Regions from separate parts of the Homo sapiens genome. Here region 2 is linked to region 1. Evidence: fine-mapped expression QTL. Tissue or cell type: whole blood. Region 1 holds a variant in brackets; the other region holds the start of a gene. All regions are shown on one strand. Distances are from middle to middle.

The links. PIP is the estimated chance that this variant, and not a neighbour inherited with it, causes the effect.
Region 2: it holds the start of CD2, and the variant in region 1 is fine-mapped to the expression of CD2 in whole blood (INTERVAL, PIP above 0.99).

Annotation. Positions count from the first base shown.
Region 1 is chr1:117,360,329-117,368,431 of GRCh38, forward strand. It overlaps MAN1A2 (mannosidase alpha class 1A member 2), which reads left to right and starts at 7,121. Exons shown (of 13, transcript NM_006699.5): 1 at 7,121-8,103. The coding sequence starts at 7,856. RefSeq lists silencers at 3,377-3,436, 6,357-7,176 and an enhancer at 8,047-8,103. The variant A/G (reference allele first, on the strand shown) is at 3,426.
Region 2 is chr1:116,751,141-116,759,246 of GRCh38, forward strand. CD2 (CD2 molecule) reads left to right here and starts at 3,290. Exons shown (of 5, transcript NM_001767.5): 1 at 3,290-3,413; 2 at 3,491-3,811. The coding sequence starts at 3,353. RefSeq lists promoters at 810-3,407, 2,965-3,407, cis regulatory regions at 1,040-1,539, 1,877-1,906 and a silencer at 1,540-2,043.

The DNA.
Region 1 (8,103 bases):
CACAGGACATGCTCCTTCTCATTCCTCTAAGTCTTGTCTTTTTCTTTCCTTCCTTCCTTCCTCCCTCCCTCCTTTCTTCCTTCCCTCTCTGTCTCTTTTATTTTTATTTTTTGAGACAGAGTTTTGCTCTTGTTGCCCAGGCTGGAGTGCAATGGTGCAATCTTGGCTCACTGTAATCTCCGCCTCCCGGGTTCAAGAGATTCTACTGCCTCAGCCTCCTGAGTAGCTGGGATTACAGACGTGTGCCACCACGCCCGGCTAATTTTGTATTTTTAGTAGAGACGAGTTTTCTCCATGTTGGTCAGGCTGGTCTCGAACTCCCGACCTCAGGTGATCTGCCCACCTTGGCCTCTCAAAGTGCCGGAATTACAGGTGTGAGCCACCGCACCTGGCCCTTTTGTCTCTTTCTTTGGAGACAAGCTCTTGCCAGTTTGGAGTCCAGTGGTACCATCATAGCTCATGGCAGCCTTGAACTCCTGGGCTCAAGCTATGGGAGACGAGTTTCCCTTAACACATGCCATGCCCTTTCTCCTTCCTCTATTCCTTGTCCCCCCTCCCTTCTTCCCTTCCCTTCCCTCCTTCTCTTCCTTTCCCTCCTTTCCTTCCCTTCCCTCCTCCCCTACCCTTCCTTTCTCTTCCCTCTCTTTTATCTTTTGAGACAAGGACTTGCTCTATTACACCTTGAACTCCTGGGCTCAAGCTATCCTCCACCTCAGCTTCCTAAGCAGCTAGGACTACAGGCGCACACCACCGTGCCCAGCTAATTTTTAAATTTTTTTGTAGAGACACGGTCTCACCACATTTCCCAGGCTTCCAAAGCTGGGATTACGGGTGTGAGCCACCACACCTGGTCCCTGTAAGTATTTTCAAAGGCTCTTCCTTCCTCTCTTTATCTACCAACTCTTACTTTTTCTAATGCCTATAATAAAAACAATAGTTAATACTTATTGAATCCCAACTATGGGGGGAAGCACTATCACATACATTATTGAGTTTAATCCTCATAACAACCCTATGAGGTGTGTATTTTTATCCTGATTTTATGGATGAATAAATTAAGAACAAGTAAGATTTCCTTTGTTTCCAATATTATGCAAGTAAATGTCAGAGGCAAGATTAGGCCCAGGTTTCTCCAGCTCCAGAGCCCATGTTCTTTTCATCATATACAGCTGCTTCTCATGTTTTATTCATCTCTGGATGCCTAGAACACTGCATAACACCAACAGAGAGTGAGTGCTCAATAATAATGAATGAATGAATATATAAATCAATGAAACATATTCTCAAATTAGCTGCCTAGAATGGATTTAAAACAATTTTAATATAAGGATTTATAAAGAATTCCTAACCTCTTTTGGAGTCAAATTCCTTTTCATAAAGGTGGATATGAGGATCCAACTTGGAAGGTTTCTGTAGGGGTTGCTAGCTTTGATATACCTCTGCAGTCACATCTGTCCAGCCCTCCCAGTTTTAGGTTTTCTTTCCCTGGCCGACCACAGAGACATCTCTGCTGGTTTCATTCTGCTTTTGTCCCTGCCCAAGCTTGTTGCCTACCTGAAAGAGTAGGTTCCTTCTAGTCCCTGATCACTTATACTTGTAAAACTACTGAAGCTTCACATACTACTACCAGCCACAATACCTCCATGTAAAGACACACTGTGTATTAGTCAAGACTCTTGAATGTAAGCCACAGAAACTAATTCTGACTGAAAAAGAAATTTATAGACTTATACAACCGAGAAATTCAAAAGATGAAATAGCCTTAGATATACCTGGATTCAGAGAAGTAGATTTACAATGAGCCCAATGAAGTTTAAATTTCTGGGTTACTAATTGCTCGGTCCTGTCTTAGGCTCTGGGAGAGGTCCTAGCAACATGTATACATAATCATGTTTTTCTAAATCTTGTAAAAATAAAATATTTCAATCACGATTGGTTAAGATTGTGGTTTCTTTTCTACTCTGATTTCCTATCCGTCACACTGCTCCATTGGTCGCGTGGGTCGGGTGGTGGTGGTGTGGTCTCAGCATTACTAAGACATACTCACTTGTAATGGAATTCAGTTTAGCAAAATCCTTTTTTTTTTTTCCTGAAATGGAGTCTCACTGTGTCACCAGGCTGGAGTGCAGTGGCGCGATCTTGGCTCACTGCAATCTTTGCCTCCCGGGTTCAAGCGATTCTTCTGCCTCAGCCTCCTGAGTAGCTGGGATTACAGGCGCTCGCCACCACACCCAGCTAATTTTTGTATTTTTAGTAGAGACGGGTTTTCACCAGGCTGGCCATGATGGTCTTAATCTCCTGACCTCATGATCCACCTGCCTCGGCCTCCCAAAGTGTTGGGATTACAGGTGTGAGCCACCACACCCGCCCTAAAATCCACTTTAATAATTCATTTTGTATTATTTTTCTTAAAGAGGACTCCTCAAATTAGGTATGCTTCCAGCCCCACAAGACCCAGATCCACCCTTACCAAGGGCTCAAGTGATACCATGTAGATACTTTCTCTCTCACTGTTTCAGCTCTTTTCTTCTCTGTTTGCTTCATTAGTAGCAAACTTCCTCACATGGTGGCAAGAAGGCCACTGGCAGCTCTAAGGTTATAGCACGCTCAGGGCTGGGAATTCTAAGGTAAAGAGATACCACTTTTGCTGATGACATCAGGAAATGACCTAAGGAGGGTTTGGATTAGCTTGGTTTGTGTCACTTGCCCTTTTCCAAACCAATCATTATGGCCAGGGAAATGTGGAACACAGGTTAGTCAAATCTGGGTAACATTCCTGGATCTAGTTAATGGTGGGAGCAAGTGCTATAGTGGGTGGTTGAGAGGTCATCCCAATCTAGACCAATAGACTAAGACCGGGGAAAAGATAGTTTTCTAAAGGAATGCTAGACAAACTGGAATTTCATGTTTCCAAGTCACACAAACACAACCATCAGCAACCTATTATTCTGAATAGAACAAACAAGTCTTTAGAGCATTTTAGAAACAATAGCTCATTTGATCCTTAAACAGTCCTATAAAATAGGTAAGGACTATTATGTTTTATAAATAAGGAAACTCAGTAAGGAGTAGAGCTAGGTTTGAAATCCATGTCTTTTGACTCCTAGTTCAGTACCTCATATACATTTAAAGGGCTTCACTTTATTAATGGATTTAAAGAGGTGAAACATTGCCTGAAACAAGAGGGTACTGCCTGTGAAAGCACGAATACCATCTATGTCTTTTCATTACAGAAACATGTTGGCAATACCCATTAGTCATTCTGAACCCATTTTATTTGCAATGCAATAGCACTGCCCCACCATTTTCACTTTCCCAGCTCAAGAGTGTTGTGAGATTAGGGCCAGGCAAGCTATTTACTGGACGAGTAGAGCAGGAAGTGTTCTGCGTAAATGGCAGGAAAAACCAGCTATGGGTGCCTGCGC[A/G]TGCTCTGCTCCCTAGGCTGGAGCACGACCCTTCTCTTATGGTTCAAGGCTCAGCTCAGGTGACACTGGATTGGGGAACTTTCCCTAACTTTCCCAATCCACCTCCTCTCACTCTGTGGCACCTTCAGTGTTCCCATAAAGCCCGTGACACTTTGCTCCAACAGCATTCTTCCCACTGTCTTGTAATCGTCAGTGTTCATCTACTCCTCCACACTAGACTGCAAGCTCACTGAGCATAAGGATTCTGACTTATTTCTCCAAATCTCCAGCACCTAGTACAGGATTTGTCAAATAGTAGTCCTCCAACAAATGAGTCTTTTATAAGCAAATGAGCCTCACGTACTTTGGCTCAGAGAAGCAGCCAAGATTTTTTGGCTTTGCCGACTTTCACGGATCTTACTTGAGGGCTTCACAGCACTGAACTTCAGTTTATCCCTGACCTCTGAGGAAAATGCCTCATAGAGGAAAGCAAGATTGGAAGGAGCAAGGCTGAAGCCTGTTATTTCCCTACACATTCAGTGGTCACGTCGAGTAATTTCTCCTCCAATATCTTCCTTGTACATTTTGGGCACCAGTTGGAACAGGTTACATAAGTAAATCAAAAGCCTCTTTTTGCATACCAGCTTTTATTTTTTTCCTGTAGCACTTCAGTTTCACTTAAAACAGAGCTAGGGGTGTATGTGTGTGTGTGTGTGTGTGTGTGTGCATGCGTGTGTGTATAACAGGTGTGAAATGGTTTCAATAATAGAAAAGTCAACACATGGTTGAACAAATACAAGTAACTTCCACATTGCAATACGAGTGGATCTTAGGAGTGGTCCTGTAAATCTGCAGGAGTAAATTTTGTTAGTAATTTATTAATTCTAATTTCTAAAATATTAATTTATATGGATTTGTAAAAGGGAAATCATCACTTTGGAATCTCTGATCAAAGGGTAACTACTCTTTGAAAATGAAATATTCTTTTTAGACTCTCTGGAATGAAATCCTTCCCTGTTGTACGTGTACACACACATACACACATACATAGAACAGGCTGCATACTGTTTCTGCCGATTGCCTTCAGATGGGCCGGTCTGTGTGTTCATCTTGATACTACCGAGTCTACCTATTTGAAATTTGACCTTAACTTTTTCAGGCACCAGTTCCTTTATAATTTTTATTTAATTGTAAATATAATGCAACAGAATACAATGGAGAAAATCATACGTAAAACCAGTATCTTAACAGAATAGTTGCAATCTTTTTCAAATATTCTTTTTCTATGTTTTTAAGTGCATATAATTATAATTAATGGATACATTTGCAACTTTTTTTTTTTTAAACAACATGATTCTTTAAAAACTCAGACTTGCCTTTAGAAGAGTGGATATATGTAATACTATGTATACAGTATTTTCATTGCTGGTGTAGGAGTGTGATAACTGACGGTATCATCAATGACTTTAAAATTGCTGGCTGCATTTGGACATCTGCAATAACCCCTAAATTGTTTTTACTCTCATGAAGGAAAAATGAATTTTGCAAAACAGACAAGCAAAGGAAAAGGGGTCTTCTCCATCAGCAATGAGGTCTTACTTGCTTAAGCTATACTTGTCAACTAGGTTATGTCAGGTTTCATGATTGAAATCTCTTGTGGTTAAGTCTAGTGTTAACCTAGGTAATATTTATTTTTCAAGATTTATATAACTTGCTATTTCATTCAGAGTTCAGTATTTATTTCCCCTGAACTTTTCATGGAAACTAATGATCTCAACAGTAGGAAAACAGTGTGTTCTTCCCCGCCTCCCCACCGCCCCCCCCACTTTGGCTTACGGAGTCTCAACATTAGAGACTTATTCTTAAATTTGGCACATTTTATAAAGACATATTGGGAAGGCTAAAAGTTTCTTATATCTACTCTTCACAAATGTTCAACATAAATCTCACTAGGGACCGGGCACTCCTTGCTTACCAGTCTCCCTGGGTGAACTGGTGAGAGGTGGCCCTCAATATTTTTACTTTTTATTTGGTGAAGCAGGATCAATGACAATGACTTTTGTCATGTGGTAGGCAGTTAGATATGCAGAGCTTCTAGAAATAATGCAGACTGGGAGACTGGAATGTAGTTACAAGTGTGCCAATGAACATGAGACTTTTCTGCTTGATTTTTAAGCTAAGGCTGACTTACTCTCCTGACATTTAAGGGCCTCCTCTCCAATTCCCAGTCATCAGTAAAGGATGTGTACAGGGAATGACAATATTAGAACAAAAACAACCTGCAAGTAAATCGGATGCAAGAGTCTATGTATCTTGCAAGGAAATCTTTTGCACTTAATCACAACATGGCTCTCCTCAATACTACGGAGAACAGAATTGATTCAGATTGTTTTTAAGCCTGAACGTAAACAATATTGTCGCCTTTTTGGGTTTCAGCACCTCCTTATTCATCCATTTTCTCTTTTATGGGAAGGGGGTTGATGAGGTGTGTGAAGATGATAGAACGTGCCCCAGAAACTGAACAATGAAGAGACGCCTGTCATATCGGGGGTACCTAGATTCCTCTGAAAGGAAGCCCAGCTGAAGGAGCAGGGTCACCACTTTATTTTAAAAACGTAACATGGCACATGTTGGTGCTCTATTAATCGAGCCTCGGGGGCCCAATAACGTGAGCATGGGCTGCTGCGTGGAAGTTTGAGACCCTGTTGCTGAATCCTCGGGCCTGACGGTCTATCGCTGAAGACAAGACTTCCAAAGAATCACAGTAAACGTTAACCTAAGCCATCAGAAGCCATTAACTCCGGTGACACTACATTTCAGCGAAACCTTCGCGACCCAACCCCTCGCTCCCTCTCGCCCAAACGCTGGGTCAACCCCACGAACTGGCGGTGGCAAGGCCCTGGGCACCGGTGAAGTTCTCGTGGCAGCGCAGATCGGCGACCTTCTCTTCTTTCGCGCTCAGACGGCGGCGGCAGCAGTACGCTTTCGGGCTGCTGGAGCCGGCAGCGGCGCGAGGCCGGAGCCCGGGCAGCCAGGCTGGGTGGGGGAGGGGCGGCGGCAGCGGAGCCGGGAGCGTGCGCGCGCACCTCACACTCCGCCGCCCGGGGACGCCCACTCGCGAGCCGGGGCCGGTAGGCCGGCCCGGGTCCCATCGCCCCCGCCCTCCGGTTCCTCTCCGGCGTGAGCCCAACGGGTGTCGGCCCAGCAGCTGCTGCGCTCACCAGGCCTGGGGAGGCAGGGTACGGGGACCGGGCCGCAGCCCCGAGCGGCGTGGGCGCGCTGCCTCTCTGGCAGCCGCCGCCAGAGCCAGCAGCTGCGAGCCACCGGAGGCGGCGCGGAGGAGGCCCCCGCGGCCGGGCAGGAAGGAGACGCGGCCGACCTCTGCCCGCCCGAGGCGCGGCTGCTCCCGCGCGCCCAGGCCCTCCCGCCGCTCCAGGGCTGAGTGAGGAATGAGCCGGCGCCTACCCCGGGCTCTCGGAGCGTGGGCCCCGGCTCGGCTTCTTAGGCGCGAGGGCTCGGCCACTGCGGCCGGCGGCCTAGCTCGGGGAGCAGGCGCCGGGGTTCACTGAACCGGCCGCGGAGAGGAGGAGGAGGAGGAGGAAGAGGAGGAGGAGGAGGAGGAGGAGCTCGGCGGGGGCGGCCGCCGCGCCTCCCCTCCCCCAGGACACGCCGGGGCTTCTCAGTGGCCGCCGGAGGAGGAAGTTCCGCTCCCTGACAGACCCGTGCGGTAGCAACAGCGGCGGCGGCCGCGGCGGCTGGCCGGACTCAGGTGTTTCGGACGCTATTGCCCTTCGCGCCAGCCGTCGAGTGGGCAGCAGCGGGACTCAGCCGGGCGCCAGGTTCCTGCCAGGCAGCGCCGGGAAGCGCGGGCGGCCGAGAACTCCTTCCTGCTACTTCGCCCAGCGCCGCTGCTTCGGCTTCCCAGCGAAGTGGGAGACCTTCCTCCCTGTTTGCAGACGTCCGTGGGAGACCCTTATTTTTTCCACCGCTAAGGTTAAGAGATTCTGGAATAGAAGCGTCGAAGGAGATCAAGTGAACCTTCTACAACTCCTCGGATGTCGCCAGTCTCCCTTTCGGGGCGGAAGACTACGTTTGAGCATCTCACTGAGGTGCAGGAATGGAAGAACCCACCTTGCAGCTTTTCTGCAGTGTGGCTTGCCTGATCTACCCCTAGGAATGAAGAGGAGGCTTGTAATAATCCGATGAAGTACAGATGTTGAAGAGGATATCGCAGGACCTAAACTTGTGATCGTTTGGGGGAGGTCACACACGTTTCTGAGTGGGAATGGATGGGCGTGAATGACGTGCCCTCTTAAAAAGCACAACAGTCCTTTAAGAGGAGCAAAATTGAGTTTTCCCATTTTGGCCAAGATTTTGAAGACAGTTCAATGTATTCTACATTTGACATAAGATGAGAACTTTCTAAAGTATTCTCTCCAAGAGCGTAAACGATGACTACCCCAGCCCTGCTGCCCCTCTCTGGACGTAGGATACCACCTCTGAACCTGGGGCCGCCTTCCTTCCCACATCACAGGGCTACCTTGAGACTTTCTGAGAAGTTTATTCTTCTCCTTATTCTTAGTGCCTTCATCACTCTGTGTTTTGGGGCATTCTTTTTCCTTCCAGACTCTTCAAAACACAAACGCTTTGATTTGGGTTTAGAAGATGTGTTAATTCCACATGTAGATGCCGGTAAAGG
Region 2 (8,106 bases), 610 kb before region 1:
TGTTTCTGCCCTTGAAGCCATGCTCATCACTCAGAATTGAATTAGTTTTAGAGGAGCAAAATTAATGTTTCAAATAGAGGAACAGAAAGCTGCTCTTCACATGCTCCATGAGGAAAGTGTGAGGAAGAGAGGACAAGCGCCCTCCAAAGCTGAGATGGGTCAGAGGATGGCTGGCGCCACCTTCTCTCCACCAGGCCTTGACACACTGGAGTTGGATGGCAGCTGGTGGGTCAGCCACTCACAAACAGGAAGCTCCATGCTGCTCCTCTGGGTTGGCGATACTTTTGAAAAAATACGTGTGCCCTAAGCATCCTTTCTTAAAAAGACATTTTTTATTAACAAAAAAGGTGCTTATTTCCAAAATTTTAAACTTCACAGAAATAAATAAAATGTGAAAGAAACATAAAATCCTGGGACCCCAATTCATTATGCCAAAAGGAAAAATTAAGCTGAAAGTTGAGTCACACAAGAAACTGCCTTTCCTTGAGTTCCTAAGCAGAGAGTTACAGATAAAAAGCTGCTGTCTCCACGGGTAGCTACTCTATGTTCACCTTATCTTAAGAAAGTGCCAATTTACTGAGCATGAGAAGAATACAAATTGACCATTCCCCTACCTACTTTTTTTCTCTTGCAACATATGGATTCAGTAATGTGACTGTACCCTCCCTCCTTCCCCTCTGGCCAGCTTTTCCCCTTAACTGAAGGTTTTGAAATAATCTTGAGAAAAAGGCACAAACCACAGATTTTTCCTGTGGTTCTGTGTTCCTTTTTGTCCCTAATGTTGATGAAATAAACTTCTAAATTGATTGAGATCTGTCTCAAATTCTTTTTGGTTTACAAAGGTAAGAAGTGAAAATTTCATTTCAGTTCTCTCACAATCTAATACCTGAAAGACAAGCACTGTAAAAAAATTCAGCATCAACCCTTTCAGGCTTTTTTCCAACACATACCTTAATAACAACATAGTATGCTATGGTATACTGGTATACCCATAGCATAGTATAAACATAGTATCATATATAAAAAGGACTAATCCTATAGATATTGTTTTGCAATGTGCTCTTTTCATGTGATTTACCAAAAGCATCTTTCCATGTCTTACTTTTAGGCCTATGTTATACTATTTTGATGGTTATACAATATTTCATAATATGGATATACCATAATTTTAGTTGTTTGCAATTTTTTATTACAAAAATGCTACAACAAACGTCCTTGAACAGAATTTTAAAACATCTGTGCAATCATTTCTGTGGGATAGATTTCTCAAATTAAAATCACTAGGTGAGAAAAAGACATAAATTTTAAAGTTTGGTGGAAATGATAAATTCCTTTCCCCAGAAGGTATTGATTTACATTCCCTCTGATGTTGTATGAGGGTTCATTTCTCCACACACTCATGTTAATAATGTAAATTATCATCTTTTCTAATTTTACCAATCTGATGGTGAAAAATGGTATTTTATAGCTAAGATATATACATATATTTTTGGTCACATTAGACTCCTCTTGTAGGTTTGATATTTCTTCTGCGAAATATTTCTTCTGCAAGCTGATCATTTATATCATTTGCCCATTTTAAAAACTACTTTGTATTGATTGGTAAGAATTATTGGTAAGAATATTTTGAATATTAATAATTTTATATATATTGCAAATATTTTGTCACGCCTTTTCATTTTGTTCCTTATTTCTTCATCTGCATGTAAATCTTACTTCTTTATATCATCAGTTGTGTTCATCTTTTCTTTCTTACTTTGGATTATATGTTATATGTAGCCAGGCCTTCCATACTCAAACTATAGGAATATCTTTCTATATTGTCCTTTTAGCATTATTGTTATTATTTTATTTATTTAGTTATTTATTTTGAGACAGAGTCTCACTCTGCTCCCCAGGCTGGAGTGCAGTGGCACAATCCTGGCTCACTGCAACCTCCGCTTCCCAGATTCAAGCAATTTGCCTGCCTCAGCCTCCTGAGTAGCTGGGATTACAGGCGCACATCACCACACCTGGCTAATTTTTGTATTTTTAGTAGAGATGGGTTTCACCATGTTGGCCAGGCTGGTCTTGAACTCCTGACCTCAGGTGAGGAGGTCCGCCTCGACCTCCCAGAGTGCTGGGATTATAGCTGTGATCCACCACCCCCGGCCTCCTTTTAGCATTATTATAGTATTTTTGCATTTAAAACTTTAATCCAACTGTAGTTCATTATTGTGGATGACGCTCATACAACCATGAGGTAAATATTTGGCTTTCTTTTACCCAGTAACAGCAAACAACTGCTTTGACTTAATTTCATTTCCTTGGCAACTTTCTGACAGATAATATCCATATTTGTACTTAAAGTTGAAAAAGAAAACGAGCACCACTTTTGCAATTTTTACTCACTGTGACCTAAAGAATTATAACCCTGAAAATGTGCTTTGGAAGTCTGTCATGGTTATTTCTCTTTTTAGGCATCTTTTCAGGGCACACCCGTCTCTGCATCACTGTCTGTTTCCTTGTGTCACAAATTTCTGTTCTTTTTTTCTCTCCCTGTTCCCTCTCATTTATTTTTTCTCCTAATCTCTCCTTTTTCTTAACCACCTATAATGTTAATCACTTTAAATGCTTTTGACTCCTTTGTTTTGGTAGTTTAATTATATTTCATAGTCTCTATGCTTCTTTGTTTTGGAATAAGTTTTTATTTATCTAACTGTGAATTTCACTAGAGTTGTAAAATGTATGCCGAACATAGGATTTGGGGATTGCAAGCATTTACAGCTGATATTCAATTTCTTTCTTTTCACCACAAAAACGATTTTAGAACATGAAAAATATCTTTGGAGAAACAAAAAAATCAATTTCCTCATCATTTTATGGGTCTACATTTTTCAATATAATCATATGGGATAAATGTTTGCATTCTGCTATTGGCTTGTGAACATTTACCTATATTTCTATGTGGTCTTGTTAGGGACAGTATACCTAAGTGGATAAAAGGCTGTGTGGTTGAATTTGGCTTCTTGTTTACAAAAGAGTGATCCTTAGTGATCTACTTAGCCTCTCTGTTCCTTTTCTCTTTCACTGAGATGAGAAAACCTATCCTTCCCAATTTTTTTGTGTGAGAATTAAAATGCAGCAAGAAAACACACACTCATAAACACATCTGCTTTGGCAAAGGAGCACATCAGAAGGGCTGGCTTGTGCGCGCTCTTGCTCTCTGTGTATGTGTATTATGTTTTATGTTACTGTAAAAGATGTAAAGAGAGGCACGTGGTTAAGCTCTCGGGGTGTGGACTCCACCAGTCTCACTTCAGTTCCTTTTGCATGAAGAGCTCAGAATCAAAAGAGGAAACCAACCCCTAAGATGAGCTTTCCATGTAAATTTGTAGCCAGCTTCCTTCTGATTTTCAATGTTTCTTCCAAAGGTAAGCATAAGAGTCAAAGAAGTCCCAACCCAGCTTTCCCTGAAAGTGACTCTCAGTAACTCTTTTGCTTTTTATAGGTGCAGTCTCCAAAGAGATTACGAATGCCTTGGAAACCTGGGGTGCCTTGGGTCAGGACATCAACTTGGACATTCCTAGTTTTCAAATGAGTGATGATATTGACGATATAAAATGGGAAAAAACTTCAGACAAGAAAAAGATTGCACAATTCAGAAAAGAGAAAGAGACTTTCAAGGAAAAAGATACATATAAGCTATTTAAAAATGGAACTCTGAAAATTAAGCATCTGAAGACCGATGATCAGGATATCTACAAGGTATCAATATATGATACAAAAGGAAAAAATGTGTTGGAAAAAATATTTGATTTGAAGATTCAAGGTAAGTGTTCATTCCCTTAATTGCTTTATTTCAGTGTGGGTGCTATTTGGCAAGTTGGAAAATAGCATTTCTAATATTCCCCAGCGCTGACCTCTGCCTCCAGGGGGGCTATACAGGAAACCAGATGCATGTCTCCTGCCCCAGTGGAGACTGTGGTCCAATGCGGGAATGGGATCCACACATCTGATAGACCCTCAAGTCTACCTGCCTACAACTCTGTCTTCAGGTGGTTACAGGAATGTGGGGTTGGGTGAAGAACCTGGATTAAGGTGGCATTAATCGGGAGGGGGACACAGGTAGGCCGAGGGAAAAGGCAACTGTTCCAGGTTGCTGATGAATCGGCGAGCTAAGAGTGGGGCGAGAAGAAGAGGCTGACTGGAGAGCAGCGGGCCTTTCATCGACAGAGCCCATTTCAAGCCAGGCTGCCCTGAAGGAGGAGTTATATGGCAGAAAAGGGCTGGAAACAACATATTTAAGGATGAACAGCCCTTATTTTGGATCTGCTTGTCAGAGTGATACAAGGTGGCAGGTGATTTTTGCTGATATGTGTAGAAGATGCACAAGGTGTGGCTTTGTATATCTCTGCCTGTACTGGGAGGACAGGAGTGGATATTGAGGATGGGGTTAGGGAGACTAGTTAGAAAGCTGCTGCTGTAATCCAAGTGGAGTGAGGACCAATTAAATCAGATTTTTTTTGCATGCGGCCTGGGTATCATTAGGTTCTAAAGCTCCCTGGGGGATTCTAATGAGCTGCCAAAGTCAATCGCCACTGGCCTAGACCAAAGGGTGCCTCTAAAATAGGAAGAATGAGGATAATAAGGGTCAGGCATAGAGAAAGGTGGCTTAGGCAAGGGAGAGAAGGTAGAGAAAGTGGAATCGAAATGCCATTGAAGTTGAAAGCCCGGGGGGATGCTGGGGAAGTAGTGACAAGAAGGGAAAAGAAGAAGCTGCGCTTGACTTGGGGAGGCAGACAGGAACCCCAGCATGAGCACAGGCCAGCCATTCAGTGAGCAAATAAGCATTTCTGTGCTTCACACAGAAAATATCACCAGAAGCAGGGACCCCACCTTCTTCCTCTCTGTCTCCAGCCCCATCTTCAGCACCTGGGCCTACCAGCAATCCCAGATAGTGTCAGATTGCCCACTCCAGCAATCCCAGACACTGTCAGCTCCCCTGAAGTGACAACTTTCCACACCCTAGTCCTGCAACCTTGAGTGGAGAGCACCTTGTAGAAATGTAGTGGGGTTGAGCATGGCGCTGAAAAGGGCCTCTGATTATGGGCTCTGGAAACCACAGATCTCAGGACTCCAAACAGCACAAAACTCGAGTGTCCTGTTTTGAGTGTGAGCCCTACGCGGGGGACCATGCTGGTGTTTTCACATTTGGGTCGCATTTAGCATTGCGGCGGAAATAATGGCTACCAGTTAGGGGTCAAGTGCTTGCTTACATGATCTTATTTAAAGCGCCCAACAATACTGAGACCTAGTTGTTATTATCTCCTTGTTATATATAAGAAAACAGAGACCTAGTCAGAAGCAGCTTGTCCAAGGTCTCATTGCTTGACAGGAGCAAAGTCAGGATTCAAACTCAGAGGTCTTTTTGGCAAGAATGACGACCTTTTCTTTTTTTTTCCAAGCAGCTTCATTGAGATAATTCATCTACCATTCAATTTGTCCATATACTAAAATGGCCTTCAGTATATTCAGAGTTTTGTAACCATCACCACAATCAACATTTTCATTGCCCCAAAAAGAAACCCTTCACCCTTTAGCCGAAAGACAGTGACTTGCTTTATGTGTGTGCACGTCAATGTCATACAACATCTTGATTCAACTTGTAGTTGGTCACTATTACCAGACTTAAGGTGACCATGGCCTTGGGCAAATTCCCTATCTGCTGTGAGTCTGCTTTTCCAATGACAACTTCAAGGGATATTCAGTGAGACAAGGTGTGTACAAGTGTCCTGCAGTGCCTGGGGCACAATGCCTGTTTTCTCAGTGCTAATGCCCTCCCACATCTCTTTGTTTCTCCAAGCTTCTCTTTTTTTTTTTTTTTTTTTAATTGAGATGGCATCTTGCTCTGTTGCCCAGGCTGGAGTGCACTGGCATGATCTCAGCTCACTGCAGCCTCTGCCTCCCAGGTTCAAGCGATTCTCCTGCCTCAGCCTCCCAAGTAGCTGGGATTACAGGCATGTACCACCACGTCCGGCTAATTTTTGTATTTTTAGTAGAGACGGGGTTTCGCCATGTTGGTCAGGCTGGTCTCAAACTCCTGACCTCAGGGGATCCGCCTGCATCGGCCTCCCAAAGTGCTGGGATTACAGGTGTGAACCACGCACCCGGCCTCCAAACTTCTCAAACTCCAGTAGTTGTGCCTGCATTTCCTTCATGAGGGAGTTGCTGCTGCAGGCTGAAGAGGCAATGGAGGGCCCCTTAGAAGCAGATGCTAGTAGGGAAGGGGTTAATCCCAGCAACTCAGAATTAAGGAGTTCTCATCCATGGAAGGCCTTAGGTTGGATCAGTTCTAAGACGCTATCTTAGTGAATGTATACGGAGGTACTACTCCACAAGGGTGCCCATCACTGCATTATTCATGTTAGCGAAATACTAGAACAGTCAGCAGTTAGAAACTTATTAATCAGTTAAATTAAGAATGCATCCTTTAAAAAGATGCATATATGCATTTATTGATGTTCATTAAGAAAAGAACTTCATAATATAATTTCACAATAAAGGGGAAAAGGCAGACTGTAAGATCACATAAATTAGTTTTAATTTTTAAAATATTACATATATATATATAGAGAGAGAGAGAGAGAGAGAGAGGCAGACAGAAAGAGACAGGGTCTCACTCTGTCGTCCAGCCTGGAGTGCAGTGGTGAAATATTGGCTCACTGCAGCCTCTGCCTCTTGGGTTCAAGCAATTCTCATGCCTCAGCCTCCTGAGTAGTTTGGATTAGAGGCGCATGCCAACACACCTGGCTAATCTTCATATTTTTAGTAGAGATGTATTTCACCATGTTGGCCAGGCTACTCTTGAACTCCTGGCCTCAAGAGATCCGCCCACCTTAGCCTCCCAAAGTGCTGGATTACAGGCATGAGCCACCTCTCCCAGCTGAAATATTATATTATTTATATATATACATATAAATAGAAAATATCTGCTAAAGATATACATGAAAATATTATTCATTATTGACTTTGAGTGGTGGCGTTGTGGGTAATTTTTAATCTGCTTTAAACTTTTAAAAATATTTTATCAGCTTGTACAATGATTGGAGTTGAAAGCCCACGGATGCTGGGCAGGGAGTGATAAGAAGGGAAAAGAGGAAGCTGGCTTGGGGAGGAAGACAGGAACCCCAGCATGAGCACAGGCCAGCCATTCAGTGAGCAAATAAGCATTTCTGTGCTTCACACAGAAAATGTCGCCAGAAGCAGGGACCCCACCTTCTTCCTCTCTGTCTCCAGCCCCATCTTCAGCACCTGGGCCTACCAGCAATCCCAGATAGTGTCAGATTGCCCACTCCAGCAATCCCAGACACTGTCAGCTCCCCTGAAGTGACAACTTTCCACACCCTAGTCCTGCAACCTTGAGTGGAGAGCACCTTGTAGAAATGTAGTGGGGTTGAGCATGGCGCTGAAAAGAGCCTCTGATTATGGGCTCTGGAAACCACAGATCTCAGGACTCCAAACAGCACAGAACTCGAGTGTCCTGTTTTGAGTGTGAGCCCTACATGGGGGACCATGTTGGTGTTTTCACATTTGGGTCACATTTAGCATTGCGGCGGAAATAATGGCTACCAGTTAGGGGTCAAGTGCTTGCTTACATGATCTTATTTAAAGCGCCCAACAATACTGAGACCTAGTTGTTATTATCTCCTTGTTATATATAAGAAAACAGAGACCTAGTCAGAAGCAGCTTGTCCAAGGTCTCATTGCTTGACAGGAGCAAAGTCAGGATTCAAACTCAGAGGTCTTTTTGGCAAGGATGATGACCTTTTCTTTTTTTTCTAAACAGCTTCATTGAGATAATTCACCTATCATTCAATTTGTCCATACACTAAAACGGCCTTTAGTATATTCAGAGTTTTGCAACCATCACCACAATCATGTTACTGTGTTGCTGTTATAAGTAGAAAAAAAATATTTCCATTCTGAAGAGACGGGCAAACTTCGTGACCCAACCTCTAGACTATGTACTAACTCTGTTGCTGAATGTTGATAATTTCCATTTTCTTCCTTCTCAGTAACGCAGAATCTTGGGATGAGAAGAAAACTTTTAATTTAATTTCTGCA